4 linked regions of the Homo sapiens genome follow. The protein of the gene in region 1 purifies or fractionates together with the protein of each later gene. This does not show direct contact. Each region holds a gene or a part of one and is shown in the gene's direction. Other genes may lie near its edges.

Region 1 (4,042 bases):
TACAGACGTGAGAGACCCCAAAGCCAGTCTAGGGCGGTAGACATCAGAGCTGCAGCGGTCGGTATGGGCCACATGGGTGGACACATTGATCAAAACTCAGCGAAGGCCGGGCACGGTGGCTTACCCTGTCATCCCAACACTTTGGGAGGCTGAGGCGGGCGGATCACCAGAGGTCAGGAGTTCGAGACCAGCCTGGCCAATATGGTGAAACCCCATCTCTACTAAAAATACAGAAATTAGCCAGGTTGTGGTGGCGCAAGCCTGTAATTCCAGGTACTCAGGAGGCTGAGGAGGGAGAATCGCTTGAACCCGGGAGGCAGAGGCTGCAGTGAGCCCAGATCGCGCACTGCGCTCCAGCCCGGGCGACAGAGGGAGACCTTGTGTCAAAACAAACAAACAAACAAACTCAGCGAAGAAGAATTGCGCATTGTACTACTTGTAAACCTTGTTTCCAATACAAACATAGGTAGGGGCAGGCCGGGAGCCACCTTGAGGTGGCTCAAGGCAGGAGAATCGCTTGAACCAGGGAGGCGGAGGTTGTAGCGAGCCGAGATCGCGCCACTGCACTCTAGTCTGGGCGACAGGGCGAGACCCTGTCTCAAAAAAAAAAAAAAAAAGAAAAGAAAAGAAAAAGAAAGAAAAAAGAAAAGTAGGGGGTCCTGGCTCATGGGAGCAAGTGTGAGCCGGGAAAACCATTCTGCTGCGCTTTCCAGCCTATCCTGCGGTTGGATCCCGCAGCCCCAGGGTGTGCAGGGCCGTCCTGTGGGGAGAGGGTGCCAAGGGCGGTGGTGGCCGGAAGGCGTCTGCACCTGGCAGCATACGGGCAAGGTCGGTCTCGAGGGTGGAGGCGAGCGGTGCTACTCACTGCCAGAACCGAGGCTGCAGATTCCCGCCCCTCGCTCAGGTCGTTAGGGGCAACCTTGGCACTGCGGCCCCGGCCCCGCCCTTCCCGCAGAGGCCAGGTGGCGGTTGGGGCGCGACCGGCCCGTTTGATTTCCCGCGGCCGGTGGAAAGGGGCGGAGGGGGGAGGGGAAAGGGGCCGCCGGCCAATGGGTTGGGCCGGGGGCCGTCACGTGGCGGCCAGGGGGCGGGGCCCAGGTGTACTTACTGGGCGGCTGGCGGGGGCCGGGGCCGCGGTGCGAAGTCCGGGAGGCGGGGTCGGCGTGCGGTCCGGGGGTGCTGCTGGGCTGGGATTGGCCCGTGGTCGGGAGGCGGGGTCTGCGCGAGCGGCGGCAGCGGGCTGCCATTGGCCTCGGCTCCGGGCCCGCTGCCGGCGTGTGGGCGAGGCTCGGGGCGCGAGGACCGAGCAGGGCGGTGGGTTCGCGAGCCGGGGGGAGGGGCCGGGGCGGTGGCGGCTGTGGCCGGTACTGGACCCGGCGGGATGAGCGAGGTGGAGGCGGCAGCGGGGGCTACAGCGGTCCCCGCGGCGACGGTGCCCGCGACGGCGGCAGGGGTGGTAGCGGTGGTGGTACCGGTGCCCGCAGGGGAGCCGCAGAAAGGCGGCGGGGCGGGCGGCGGGGGCGGAGCCGCCTCGGGCCCCGCTGCTGGGACCCCCTCGGCGCCGGGCTCCCGCACCCCTGGCAATCCGGCGACGGCGGTCTCGGGAACCCCCGCCCCCCCGGCCCGGAGTCAGGCGGACAAGCCGGTGCTGGGTGAGGGGCAGGCGCGCACAGGGCGGCTCTGAGGGGTCGGCGGGCTGGGGGAGGGGCAGTGTGGAGCCCGGCAGGATCCGGAAAACCAAAGGCGGCCTGGCCCGCAGGCCCAGAGCGCTAACTGGGCTGGGAGCTGCGCACCAAAGTGGATTCCCCTGGTGGGAAATCCTGCCGTACCTTCCTGGGAGAGAGGGCGGGGCCGGCAGGTTCAGCTAAGGTCTTGGGGTGGAGAATAAAGCCCCAGGGTCCGGCCACGCCCCCGGGCGGGACACAGTGCCTAGTTGACTGGGTTAGAACTAGGCAAACCTCTGAGCCTGGCAAGCAGGTGCACTGGGGACCCTTGCATTGGGAGGGCTAGAAAAACCCTCAGTTATGACCTGGGGGCGGCACTTTGCAGACCAGGTGAGTACCCAGTTCTAGGTGAAGGGGCTGGATTTGTAGGATGTGGGGAACGTGACTTAGAGTTGGAAGGCTTTTTGAAAGCCTGAGTCCCTGTGTGGGTGATTTCATTTGGTGGACTAGGGTAGGAATACCTTGAAGCTACTAGTGAAACCTGGTTGGCTTGAAGGTAACCTGAATAGGTAATAAGGCAGTAGGCTAGATTTTTTTTTGTTTTGGAGTGTCTCAAAACTGAGTTCAACTCCATCTCTTCCCCCCATCTCACTGTCCCCACTGCATCTCTGCCTGGCAGCAATCCAAGTCCTGGGCACTGTCAAATGGTTCAACGTCCGGAATGGTTACGGATTCATCAACAGGTATCCAAGGAACCCAGGGCGGGGGTGGAATGGGTGTCTTCCCAGCTGGCCTGTGGGACTGGACACCCGCCCAACCTCATCGACCCCTGCGGAGGCACATGGTTGCAATGTCCAGCTGATGCTGGTTGAAAGCCTTTAACCGCAGCACAAATGTGTGCTTCGTGACAAGAGGAAGCCTCCTCCGCATCTTCAAGGGTAGCGGAGGATTAATGATTCAGGAACTTGGCAAACCTGGCTCTGACCCTGCCAGCTTCTCATCTCACCTTCTGGAATTGCTTCATTACTTTTACTCTGACATGCCTTTGGGGCAGAATGTATTATAGGGTTCTCTGTGCCTCAGGGCCCCCGGCTGGAATCCTCAACTGATTTCCTGTTATGGCAGCACTCACAACTCAACTCCCTTAAAGAGCTGTGGCTCATTCGAGCCCTCCACCTGTTGGGACTGAGGCTGACAGTGGGGGTCAGGAGGAAGGAGCCAGAGGCTGCTGCTTTCCTTCAGTAGGCAGCCCCACCCCTCAGCACCGGGAGAGGCTGTGGCAGTGGATTCTGAGCAGAGCCAGGTCTCCCCCAGTGGGCCCTTCCCCAGCCCAGGCATCCTGCCCGGCCTGGCTCTCCTGGGAGGCCCTAGTTCCCTCTTAGCAGGCTGACCTTTGTGCAGATCCAAGTGCTTTAAAGCTAAAACGTTTGTTCTGGGGAAGGGTCCCTGTCTAATTCTGGAAATGGCAGACTGGGTCGGGGGCAGAGTGCCTCCAGGAAAACTTTTCCTTTCTCCCCTCCCCCCACCCACTGGGGTTCTTATGATAGAGAATGGGTGAATGTTTTCTTCTCTCTCACCCTTGGTCCCACGCGTGTTGAGAGTGGTCCTGACTCTGGGATTCACCTCCAGGCTGAGGATGAGAATAAAGTTTGGCAGCTGTTTAGAGCAAGTTCCTGACACATTGTTCCCTTCTCAAACTTGTTCTGCCCCTCTGGCCCCATCTGCACTTTCTGCCTCCTTGACTATAGAAGGAAGAAGACTGGAATTTTCCAACCCTGATGGGGGTTGGGGGAGGGGGTGTTGGCCAGGGACAGTTGCACCCAGCGCTGGCAGGTTGTAAGGCTAGCCTGGGGTGGAAGGTGGAGTCCCGGCAGGGGCAGAGCTGTCTGAGGTTCCTCAAGGTGCCTTTGCCTCCCCAGCCTGCCCTTTCCTTGTGAAGTCCAGGTTTGGCACTGAGGTTTTAGGTGTATCTCTCTTTACACCAGCTTCTGGGGGCCCTGCTGGCTCTCCCTCCCATTCCCCAGGCCATGTCCACCCCTAACTGGAATGCTGGAGAGGATGGGCCCACTGAGCTTAGACTGGGCATCTAGGGGGACCTCAGTGAGGAGCTGAGGGCTTTGTTGAAGTCCCTTCCTTAACGACCCATCCTGTTCTGCAGGAATGACACCAAGGAAGATGTCTTTGTTCACCAGGTAAGAGCTAGGTTAGCTTTCTGAGGGGAAGAACCGGCCGTCTTTGAAGGCCTTTGCTGTAATCCTTAGCAGTGCGCTCCGCCATGTTTCTCTGGCTCTTCTTCACAACGGCCCATCCGCCTTGGGTGCCTGTGTCAACCACCATTAGCCGCACTTGTGCTGGGTTACTAAACGTCCGTCAGAATT
Region 2 (3,500 bases), on another chromosome or scaffold:
AAAAAAAAAAGGCCAGGTTCGGTGGCTCACGCCTGTAATCCCAGCACTTTGGGAGGCCAAGGCAGGTGGATTGCCTGATGTCAGGAGTTCGAGACCAGCCTGGCCAACATGGTGAAACCCCGTCTCTACTAAAAATACAAAAACTAGCCGGGTGTCTTGGCGTGTACCTTTAATCCTAGCTTTTCAGGAGGCTGAGGCAGGAGAATTGCTTGACTCCAGGAGGCGGAGCTTGTAGTGAGCTGAGATTGTGCCATTTGCACTCCAGCCTGGGCAACAGAACAAGACTCCGTCTCAAAAAAAAAAAAAAAAAAAAGTCTGGGTGCAGTGGCTCACACCTGTAATCTCAGCACTTTGGGAGGCCGAGGCGGGCGGATCACGAGGTCAGGAGATCGAGACCATCCTGGCTAACACGGTGAAACCCCCTTGCTACTAAAAATTTAAAAAATTAGCCGGACGTGGTGGTGGGCGCCTGTAGTCCCAGCTACTCGAGAGGCTGAGGCAGGAGAATGGCATGAACCTGGGAGGCGGAGCTTGCAGTGAGCCAAGATTGCGCCACTGCACTCCAGTCTGGGTGACAGAGCGAGACTCCGTCTCAAAAAAAAAAAAAAAAAAAAAATAGAGTGCCCTTGCTGCTGAGTCATGTGTATCTTTCTGAGATCCAGTATCTTTCTGAGGTCCAGTGCTTTCATGAGAATCTCAAAGGACTCCCAACCACCCCGCCATGGGGATCCCTCCAAAACATCCTCTCTCCATGTTCCAGGGATGGGGCTGGCCTGGGGGGAAGGAGTTTGCTGTGACCAATACTCAGCAGGTACCTGTACATTGACAACCCCCTGCCTTTTCCAGACCACGTGACCAGAGAGAAGCTGGACCGCATTCTGGCCGTTATCCAAGGCTCCCATCAGAAGGCCCTGGTGATGTGAGTAGGGCCCTCAGGGAGGTACTGGGAGAGCAGTAAGTGCCCTTGGCTCCCGTAGGCTCCCCCAAACCTGGGGCAGATTCCATGGATCTTGTTTTTAGAGCCCAGAACCAGACGGGAGCTACCTGTTTCTTTCTTGGCATTAAGAAATGGTTCTGTGTGCCAGGTCTTGGGTTGGCCAACGGGAGGCCAAGAAGAGCAAGAGAACCAAGCTGTCCTGCTGAGAGTATATGATCTAATGGCAAGGAAACCAGGGACCACATCATTGGAGCACAGAGCCCAAGGGCAAGAGCAGCCAAGGAGTTAAGAGCTTGGGCTCTGGAGCCAGCTTGCCTGGGTTTCCTGACTCTACCAGGCACCTGGTGATGAAGGAGGGCAGGAAAGGTGGCTGGAGGAGCCACGGTGGCAGGGCACACAAAGCAAGTGAGGAGCTTCCAGAGAGGCACCTCATGTGGGGGAAAGGGTAGGTGGGCCACCCAGCTGCAGCCCCCTTCCTGATCTGCAGGTACTCCAACCTCGACCTGAAGACCCAGGAGGCCTATGAGATGGCCGTGAGAGGCCTGATCCGGCCCATGAACAAGTCCCCGATGCTGATAACTGGCATCCGATGCCTCTACTTTGCACCTCCGGAATTCCTCTTAGGTAGGTTGGCCAAGGAAGTTGGAGCAGTGAGATGGGACCCGTAGGTTTGGGAGTCACTCAGGAACGCTCTTGCAGAGGTCACTGTTGTCTGGCTCAGCTGAGGCCAGCACACGCCGGCCCTGATCTCTGCGGGCCAAGGCATCAGGTGCCGACTTCCTTCCCAGCCCTGGCCTGGACTTGGCTGATGACAGAGCTCGCAGAACAAAAGCTCTCCTATCTCTTGCCAAGTCACCCTTGGAAGCCAGACCTTACCAAGCAAAGGTTATATTTAGTGGCTTATTTCCAGAGCTGCCCATGTTTGAAGCTGTGAGGGCTCCATCAGACACAACTCTTACGTCCCCAGTCCCACCCAGCTCAGGCCCCTCTTATCTGTGTTCCTTTTGTCTCTGCCTGCGCCCGCCCCTTTTTTCTGTTGGTCATGTTAATGCCTGCTCCTCTGCTTGAGCACAGAACTCTGTTATTAAGATAACATCTTAATAACATTTTAAAGATAATCATTTATCTTTCTATAAATGATTTCTTTTACTCCTCATAACTCCCATTTTACAGATAGGGAAACCGAGTCTTAGTAAAAGGCAGGTTCTAACCTGGGCAAGATGGCGAGACCCTGTCTCTACAAAAAATAAAAAATTAGCCAGTTGTGATGGCTCAGAACGTCCCAGCTACTCCGGAGGCTGAGGCAGGTGGATCATGTGAGCCTAGGAGGTCAAGGCTGCAGTGATCTGTTATCACACCACTGCACTCCAGCCTGGGTGATGGAATGAGACCCTGTTGCCAAAAAAGGGCAGATTCTGACTTGGCAGGTCCCGGTGGGGCCTGAGGTTCTGCAAGTCTTAACACATTTCAGGTGGCACCCACAGGGCAGGTCCTCTGAATAGCACAACCTGGAGAGCTTAGGGGTCTTGCTAAGGTTGTTACACACCTAGGAGGTATCCAAGGGGTGTGCGTTCACAACCACACACTAGAGGCTGTGCTCTCACCACCATGTCTGTCATTGTGTGTCCCTGGCAGAGGTGCAGTGCATGCATGAGACGCAGAAAGAGCTGCGGAAGTTGGTTCATGAAATCGGCCTGGAACTAAAGACCACTGCTGTCTGCACCCAAGTGCGGCGCACGCGCGACGGCTTCTTCACGCTAGACAGTGCCCTCCTGAGGACCCAGTGGGACCTAACCAACATCCAGGATGCTATCCGGGCTGCTACCCCTCAGGTAGCTGCAGAGCTGGAGAAGAGCTTGAGCCCGGGGCTGGACACCAAGCAGCTCCCCAGTCCGGGATGGTCCTGGGACTCCCAGGGCCCGAGCTCTACCTTGGGGCTGGAGAGGGGTGCGGGGCAGTGAATGCCCAGGCAGCTCCTGGGGCAGTGGATGGATAAATAGAAGAACTGCTATGAGCTGGACCTGATAGCTGTGCAGAAAGTGAGAGCAGGGGCACCTTTTCTACGTAAGACACAAAACTCAAGCTGTAACAGAAAGGTCAATGGACTTGACCCAACTGAGAAGGAAAAACTTCTGTATGGAGGAAAAGACAGTAAACATGACAGACTGATAGAAAGTATTGGCAGACCAGGCGTGGTGGCGGGCACTTGTAATCCCAGCTACTCCCAAGGCTGAGGCAGGAGAATTGCTTGAGCCCAGGAGTTTAAGGTTGTAGTGCGCTAGACGGCGCCTGTGAATAGCCACTGCACTCTAGTCTGGGGAACATATGAGACCCCTGCCATCTCAAAAAAAAAAAAATTCTCAATAAACTATGTGCCCACGAAAATTAAAAATTAAAAAAAATTGTAAGTATTTGCAGTGTCATTAACCAAGGACTAATATCCATAGTATACAGAGAGCCCTTAGAAAGCAATAAGAAGACAACGACAAAATTAGGCAAATGAGATGAAGTGTGTATCAGAAGAAATCCAAATGGCTAGTAAGCCAGAAATGACACTCAACCT
Region 3 (3,500 bases), on another chromosome or scaffold:
ATAAAACTTGGTATTTTGGTAATCATCAACCACATTCCCAAGATCCAGAGAGTTTGGTAAATGTTAACTTTCTTTCCAAAGTGGGAACATCATTGTGGCCACTCCAGGCCGCTTGGAGGACATGTTCCGGAGGAAGGCCGAAGGCTTGGATCTGGCCAGCTGTGTGCGATCCCTGGATGTCCTGGTGTTGGATGAGGCAGACAGACTTCTGGACATGGGGTTTGAGGCAAGGTACTGGACTTTGGACTTCACTGGCTTGAGTGGGCAGATGATACTAATACAAAAGGGGAGCAAAATGGAGTTTACTGTTTCATGACTAGGTATTTTTATTTTTTATTTTCATTTTTATTTATTTTTTATTTATTTGTTTATTAGAGACAGGGTCTTGTGCTGTCACCCAGGCTGGAGTGCAGTGGTGTGATTATGTTCACTGCAGCCTCAACCTCTCGGGCTCAGATGATCCTCCTGCATCAGCCTCCCGGGTAGCTGGGATTACAGGTGCACACCACCATGCCTGGATGGTTTTTTTATTTTTTGCAGATGAGGTTTTGCCATGTTGCCCAGTCTGTTCTCAAACTCCTGGACTTAAGTGATCCTCCTACCTAGGGTACCCAAAGTGCTAGGATTACAGGTGCCAGCCACCATGCCTGGCCTAAGTATTTTTATTAACCACATTTTAATTTCAAATCATTAAGTAGTTTGAGCTTTCAAATTCTACCACGTGATTTTATTCCAGTTCTATCTTTGATCTTAAAATGCACTTTCCTTCAAGTTTTTTTTTTTTTTTTTTTTTTGAGACAGGGTCTCACTCTGTCATCCAGGCTAGAATGCAGTGGCATGATTTCGGGTCATTGCGACCTTTACTTCCTGGGCTTAAGTGATCCTCCCACCTCAGCCTCCTGAGTCATCTGGGACTACAGGCACATGCCATCATGCTTTTTTTTTTTAATTTTTGGCAGAGACAAGATCCCATTATGTTGCCCAGGTTGGTCTCAAACTCCTGGGCTCAAGAGATCTTCCCATCCCAGTCTCCCGAAGTGCTGGGATTACAAGCATGAGCCATCACACCTGGCAGTTTTGTTGTTTTTTAATAAACAGCTTTATGGGATATAATTCACATATCATTATAATTGTATGCTAAAATTTGAGGAACCTTGGAAAAATGAAAGTATAAAGAAGAAACAAAGAATCACCTATAATCTCACCTCCCAGTGTATGTGCTATAAATATTTTGATGGCTTCACTTTCAGTCTTTTTGAATACCTGTTTAGTATCGTGAAGCACTGTGTGTTGATTCTGCTGGCAAGTGAGCGGTTAAGTGTGAGCCCTCTTTTTATCAGCATCAACACCATTCTGGAGTTTTTGCCAAAGCAGAGGAGAACAGGCCTTTTCTCTGCCACTCAGACGCAGGAAGTGGAGAACCTGGTGAGAGCGGGCCTCCGGAACCCTGTCCGGGTCTCAGTGAAGGAGAAGGGCGTGGCAGCCAGCAGTGCCCAGAAGACCCCCTCCCGCCTGGAAAACTACTACATGGTAAGCGCCTGGGCTTGCTTCTTACTCAGCGATAATGACCAGTGCTCATTTTATGGAAATTGTACTGGTAGAATAAATATGTGAGACCCTGTAGCACCTATGAAATGCATTTGGGGACAGAGCTAGCTAGGGCAAATGGCCTGAGTGGTCCTACTCATTGAATGAATAAGTTAAATTGGACATAAATGTATTTTAAGCACAGTCTCTAAGGACAGAGTCTCTGAACCTCCTACCCTCAAGTGACCAAATGTTTCTATTGTACATGCTTGGGGTGTGCTGGGTGCAGCCATGACTAAGCTCTGTAGTTCCTGGGCCCGTCAGAACAGCCTGTCTGACAGAGAAGGGCATAGTTAGATGTGCAGGTGGAACACAGAAAATCAAATGACAGACTCACTCCTAAGGAGACTTTGTGGGGTGGAAATGTTCTGCTCCGTAAATGTTGTGTATTTTTGACCTGCATCAAATATGCTGAGTTTCTTTTTTTTTTTTTTTTTTTTTTTTGAGACAGAGTCTGGCTCTGTCGCCCAGGCTGGAGTGCAGTGGCGCGATCTCAGCTCACTGCAAGCTCCGCCTCCTGGGTTCATGCCATTCTCCTGCCTCAGCCTCCCGAATAGCTGGGACTACAGGCGCCCGCCACCACGCCCGGCTAATTTTTTGTTAGCCCTGTTAGCCAGGATGGTCTCCATCTCCTGACCTGGTGATCCACCTGCCTCGGCCTCCCAAAGTGCTGGGATTACAGGTGTGAGCCACCGCGCCCGGCCGTTTTTTTTTGTTTGTTTTTTTTTGTTTTGAGACGGGGTCTCACCCTGTCACCCAGGCTGGAGTGCAATGGCACGATCTCGGCTCACTGCAACCTCTGCCTCCTGGTTCAAGCAATTCTTCTGCCTCAGTCTCCCGAGTAGCTGGGATTACAGGCATGTGCCACCATGCCCAGCTAATTTTTTGTATCTTTAGTAGAGGTGGGGTTTCACCACATTGGACAGGCTGGTCTTGAACTCCTGACCTCATGATCCTCCTGCCTCAGCCTCCCAAAGTGCTGGGATTACAAGAATGAGCCATCATGCCTGGCCCAAATATGCTGAATTTCTAGTAGTAAATACTGGCTGCTGGCTTCTGTAGTTTCTTCACAAAGAAGTAGATGGGCTTTTGGCAACTTGATTGTTTAGTAATGAGGCCACTCCTCACCCCTGTTCTGTTCTGTCCCATTGCTGGGATGGGCCAGGAGGCACAAATGTAGAGAGCACAGGCTGCAGGGGAGGCAGCACCATCAGGGCGAGGAGGCACCCACAGGCCAGTGCCACTGCTGACGGTACACTGGCCCACCAGCCCGGGGCTGGGGCTTTTCTTTCTCTTTTGCAATAAGCTTTCTCAGGTTAAATTTTTCGTTAGGCCTGGAGGGGTTCCCTAGCTCCTGAACATGTCTGCTGTTCAAAATGAAGGAGGCTGGTCTCGAAACCAGAATGTTCCTATTGCTGCAGACTGTGAGGTTGTCGAGGCTGCTCTCCGGTTTGTGTCAATTTGTAGGCAGATTAAAGGTAGAATGAGTTTGCAAATGAGAAACTGCACCTAGTGTAACTGGAGAGTGTTGTCAAAATCAGATAGGCTCATCAGAAGTGGGAGTTGTAGTTGCCATTGATGTTTCTGACAAGCTGGACTGGGTGAGGGAGGAGGCTAGCTCTTCCCAAGCAGAGGGAAGGACTCTGCATAGGGTAGTGTGGAGAGCATGGGCGCTAGAGCAGGACTGCCTGGTGCATATCTTGGCTTTGGCCCCTACCAGATTTAACCGATGAACTTAGAGGTCCTTACTTGTCAAATGGGGGCCACAGTAGTATACAGCTTCGTAGGGTTGCTGCAGGATTAATTAATTAATCCATGCAAAAATGTTCATGATAGTGCTTAGTACACAATAAGTATGGGTTGAGCATTCCTAACTTGAAATTCCAAAATCCAAAATCCTCCAAAATCTGAAG
Region 4 (2,855 bases), on another chromosome or scaffold:
TAATATGTCATTAATAGGATGAAATTTTTGTGCCAATGGCAAAGTAGCCCCTGGTGGCCAACAACTCTCCCCCCACACCACCACATCCATAAAAAAAGAAGGGAGAAACACCGCAATCTGAGCAGTAGCTTTTGGACTTGAAAGAGTACACAACTCTCTAATGATGGAGTAACTTTGGTCCACTGGAGAAGTAAACGTATAATATCTGCTCATAAGCTAAATAAATGCTTTGAAGTGTTATTATATTTAGGAAATTAGTAATCGTTTAGGAGCACCAGAACCATTTGTGGTTTTGTCTGTTGTTGGGTGATAGTTTTTTTTTGTTTTTTGTTTTTTTTGTTTTTTTTTGCGATGGAGTCTGGCTCTGTCGCCAGGCTGGAGTGCAGTGGCGTGATCTCGGCTCAGTGCAACCGCCGCCTCCCGGGTTCAAGTGATTCTTCTGACTCAGCCTCCTGAGTAGCTGGGACTACAAGCGCCTGCCACCATGCCCAGCTAATTTTTGTGTTTTTAGTAGAGACGAGGTTTCACCATGTTGGCCAGGATGGTCTCAAACTCTTGACTTCGTGATCCGCCCACCTTGGCCTCCCAAAGTGCTGGGATTACAGGTGTGAGCCACCGCGCCCGGCCGGGTGATAGTTTTTTAAGCCAAGAATCACTGCATAGGAGTCATACTTCTAAAAAAAAATCTATCTAAAACCTCTTACATCTTCGTTATCCATAATATTGTGATCATGGGAATTTAGTTATCAGAACAAGGGCAGAATAGCAGAGACTGAGAAGGGAGATGTTCTGTTCCAAAAGCAAGCCAAACCCATGTTGAGGTACACCCTGTGCTTTTTTTAGTCACTCTTCTCATAGTACTTTGGTTTTCAACAATTGCTTTTCATAGTGTCCTTTCCAACTGATCTGTTACTGTTTCCACTTGAATATAGGGAAAGAGGCCTAGGGGTTATGTGAACGCATCCCGTGTTCACATTATATCTGTAACAGCCAAGAGGAGAGCTTGAGGCAGGCATAATATTGAAAGGGCTTCCTCTGAGCCTCATCGGGGAACCTCACAGGTCTCTCAGGCTTCAGGGCTGTAGCTCAAGTCTGGCCGGATCTCCCATTTGTCTCTTCTTTCTGTAGCTGGCTGTAGAGCCTTGCCTGCTTCTGACTCCTTTCTAAAGTTGCTGCCGCTTACTCTAGTTTTTAGGAGTTTTACTTTGAGGCAGGTAAGACATACTTTCCCTAGTTGCTCTCCCAGAGGTCAGATTCATTTCATTTTGATTCTAGTTAAGGGGAGGAGTGCAAATTTTAAAAAAGGGAGAGAGAGAGGTGTTACAGATTATGAAATCTTATACATTTTTATATAATAACATCTTAATCTCTAACATTGGTTCTCAAACTTGGTAGATATCAGAATCATCTAGAGGGCTTGTTAAGACAGATTTCTGGGTTCTGCTCTCAAAGTTGCTGATTAAGTAGTTTTGGGGTGAGGCTTGAGGATTTGCCTTTTTTTTTTTTTTTGAGATGGAGTCTTACTCTGTTGCCCAGGCTGGAGTGCAGTGGCGCGATCTCGGCTCACTGCAACCTCCGTCTCCTGGGTTCAACCAATTCTCCTGCCTCAGCCTCCTGAGTAGCTGGGATTACAGGCATGCGCCACCACGCCCAGCTAATTTTTGTATGTTTAGTAGAGACAGGGTTTTGCCATGTTGGCCAGGCTTGTCTTGAATTCCTGACCTCAGATGATCCGCCTGCCTCAGCCTCACTAAAGGCGTGAGCCACCACGCCCGGCCGAAGATTTGCTTTTTTAACACATTCTCCTCTGTCTCTGGAGCACTCAATCTTCTTTGCACACAGTATAGCCCTGAATTATTTTATTATTGTTTTGTATGTTGATTTTGAATCCCTTTTTCTAGTTTCTTCACAGAAAATATAGGATTTAAATCCTCTGGCATTTATCCTACTTACTGAACACATGGTCAGTACTTGGTATTGGTTAACCTATTAAAATTTTTGCCAAGTAAACTTTTTAATATTTCATCCTCCCGTGTGCAGTGTTTTTTAAAAACTTTTTTTTCTTTTCTAGGTATTTAATACAAGGCTGTTTAAGGTCAAAGAAAGACACTTGTTTCTTACCTATTTAGGAAGAGCACAGTATGATCCAGCAAAACCTAACTACATCTCTTTGGACAAACTAGTATCTATTCCTGATGAAATATTTTGTGAAGAGATTGCCAAAGCATCAGTACAGGACTTTGAAAAATTCTTAAAAACGCTTTAGATTTTTATGTATGTTAAAATGCAGTATTGTAAAGTGAATATATATATGAATAAATGAATATATTTTTAAATGCCTCGGGTCTCAACTGATATTGGAAACCATTTGATACTGTAAATTTGGGTACATATACTGTGGTAGAACTTTCATCAAGTTCCTAGTGACTTAATTCTTGTTTGACTTTTTCCTTCCTTCTTAGGAAATACAGCAAGCTCAGAGAAGGGGAAAGAGTTGGTTTACTTTAAGTTGGTGCTTTGTCATTCTCGTGAAGATGAAAACAGTGGAGGATTTTTAAAGTGGTTTCATTATAAAATGGCTTTATTTCCTTTGAACTGTTACGAGTTTCCAGAGCATACTACATTAGTCATCTAATATCTACTGCTCAGATAATGCTACAAAACACACTTCATTTTGGATTATCTACATTGTTAACTTCTTGAACACAGATATTCACAGTTGGCTAAGAATAAGGAAAAGGAAAGTGGAGTTTAAAGATTAGGGGCAATGAGATATAGTGAAAGGCTTAACTAGCCTTTGACTTATTACCAGTAAACAAATATTTGTTTTCCATTTACAACATGTGTTATCCTGG

Evidence for each region.
Region 2: the proteins of YBX2 (region 1) and TRUB2 purify together in Homo sapiens (co-immunoprecipitation; 2 studies listed by BioGRID and IntAct, with this or other methods). This does not show direct contact.
Region 3: the proteins of YBX2 (region 1) and DDX55 purify together in Homo sapiens (co-immunoprecipitation; 2 studies listed by BioGRID and IntAct, with this or other methods). This does not show direct contact.
Region 4: the proteins of YBX2 (region 1) and MTERF3 purify together in Homo sapiens (co-immunoprecipitation; 2 studies listed by BioGRID and IntAct, with this or other methods). This does not show direct contact.

Annotation. Positions count from the first base shown.
Region 1 is NC_000017.11:7,291,840-7,295,881, reverse strand, and holds the start of YBX2 (Y-box-binding protein 2), read left to right. Parts: upstream 1-1,242; 5' UTR 1,243-1,381; coding exon 1,382-1,652; intron 1,653-2,343; coding exon 2,344-2,407; intron 2,408-3,822; coding exon 3,823-3,856; intron 3,857-4,042. UniProt on the Homo sapiens protein: Major constituent of messenger ribonucleoprotein particles (mRNPs). Involved in the regulation of the stability and/or translation of germ cell mRNAs. Binds to Y-box consensus promoter element.
Region 2 is NC_000009.12:128,308,948-128,312,447, reverse strand, and holds part of TRUB2 (pseudouridylate synthase TRUB2, mitochondrial), read left to right. Parts: intron 1-846; coding exon 847-919; intron 920-1,424; coding exon 1,425-1,561; intron 1,562-2,572; coding exon 2,573-2,898; 3' UTR 2,899-3,500. UniProt on the Homo sapiens protein: Minor enzyme contributing to the isomerization of uridine to pseudouridine (pseudouridylation) of specific mitochondrial mRNAs (mt-mRNAs) such as COXI and COXIII mt-mRNAs.
Region 3 is NC_000012.12:123,608,599-123,612,098, forward strand, and holds part of DDX55 (ATP-dependent RNA helicase DDX55), read left to right. Parts: intron 1-81; coding exon 82-231; intron 232-1,340; coding exon 1,341-1,530; intron 1,531-3,500. UniProt on the Homo sapiens protein: Probable ATP-binding RNA helicase. Has ATPase activity and is involved in the maturation of precursor large subunit rRNAs.
Region 4 is NC_000008.11:96,238,902-96,241,756, reverse strand, and holds the end of MTERF3 (transcription termination factor 3, mitochondrial isoform 1 precursor), read left to right. Parts: intron 1-1,901; coding exon of another isoform or gene 1,902-1,928; exon of another isoform or gene 1,929-1,963; intron 1,964-2,071; coding exon 2,072-2,266; 3' UTR 2,267-2,355; downstream 2,356-2,855.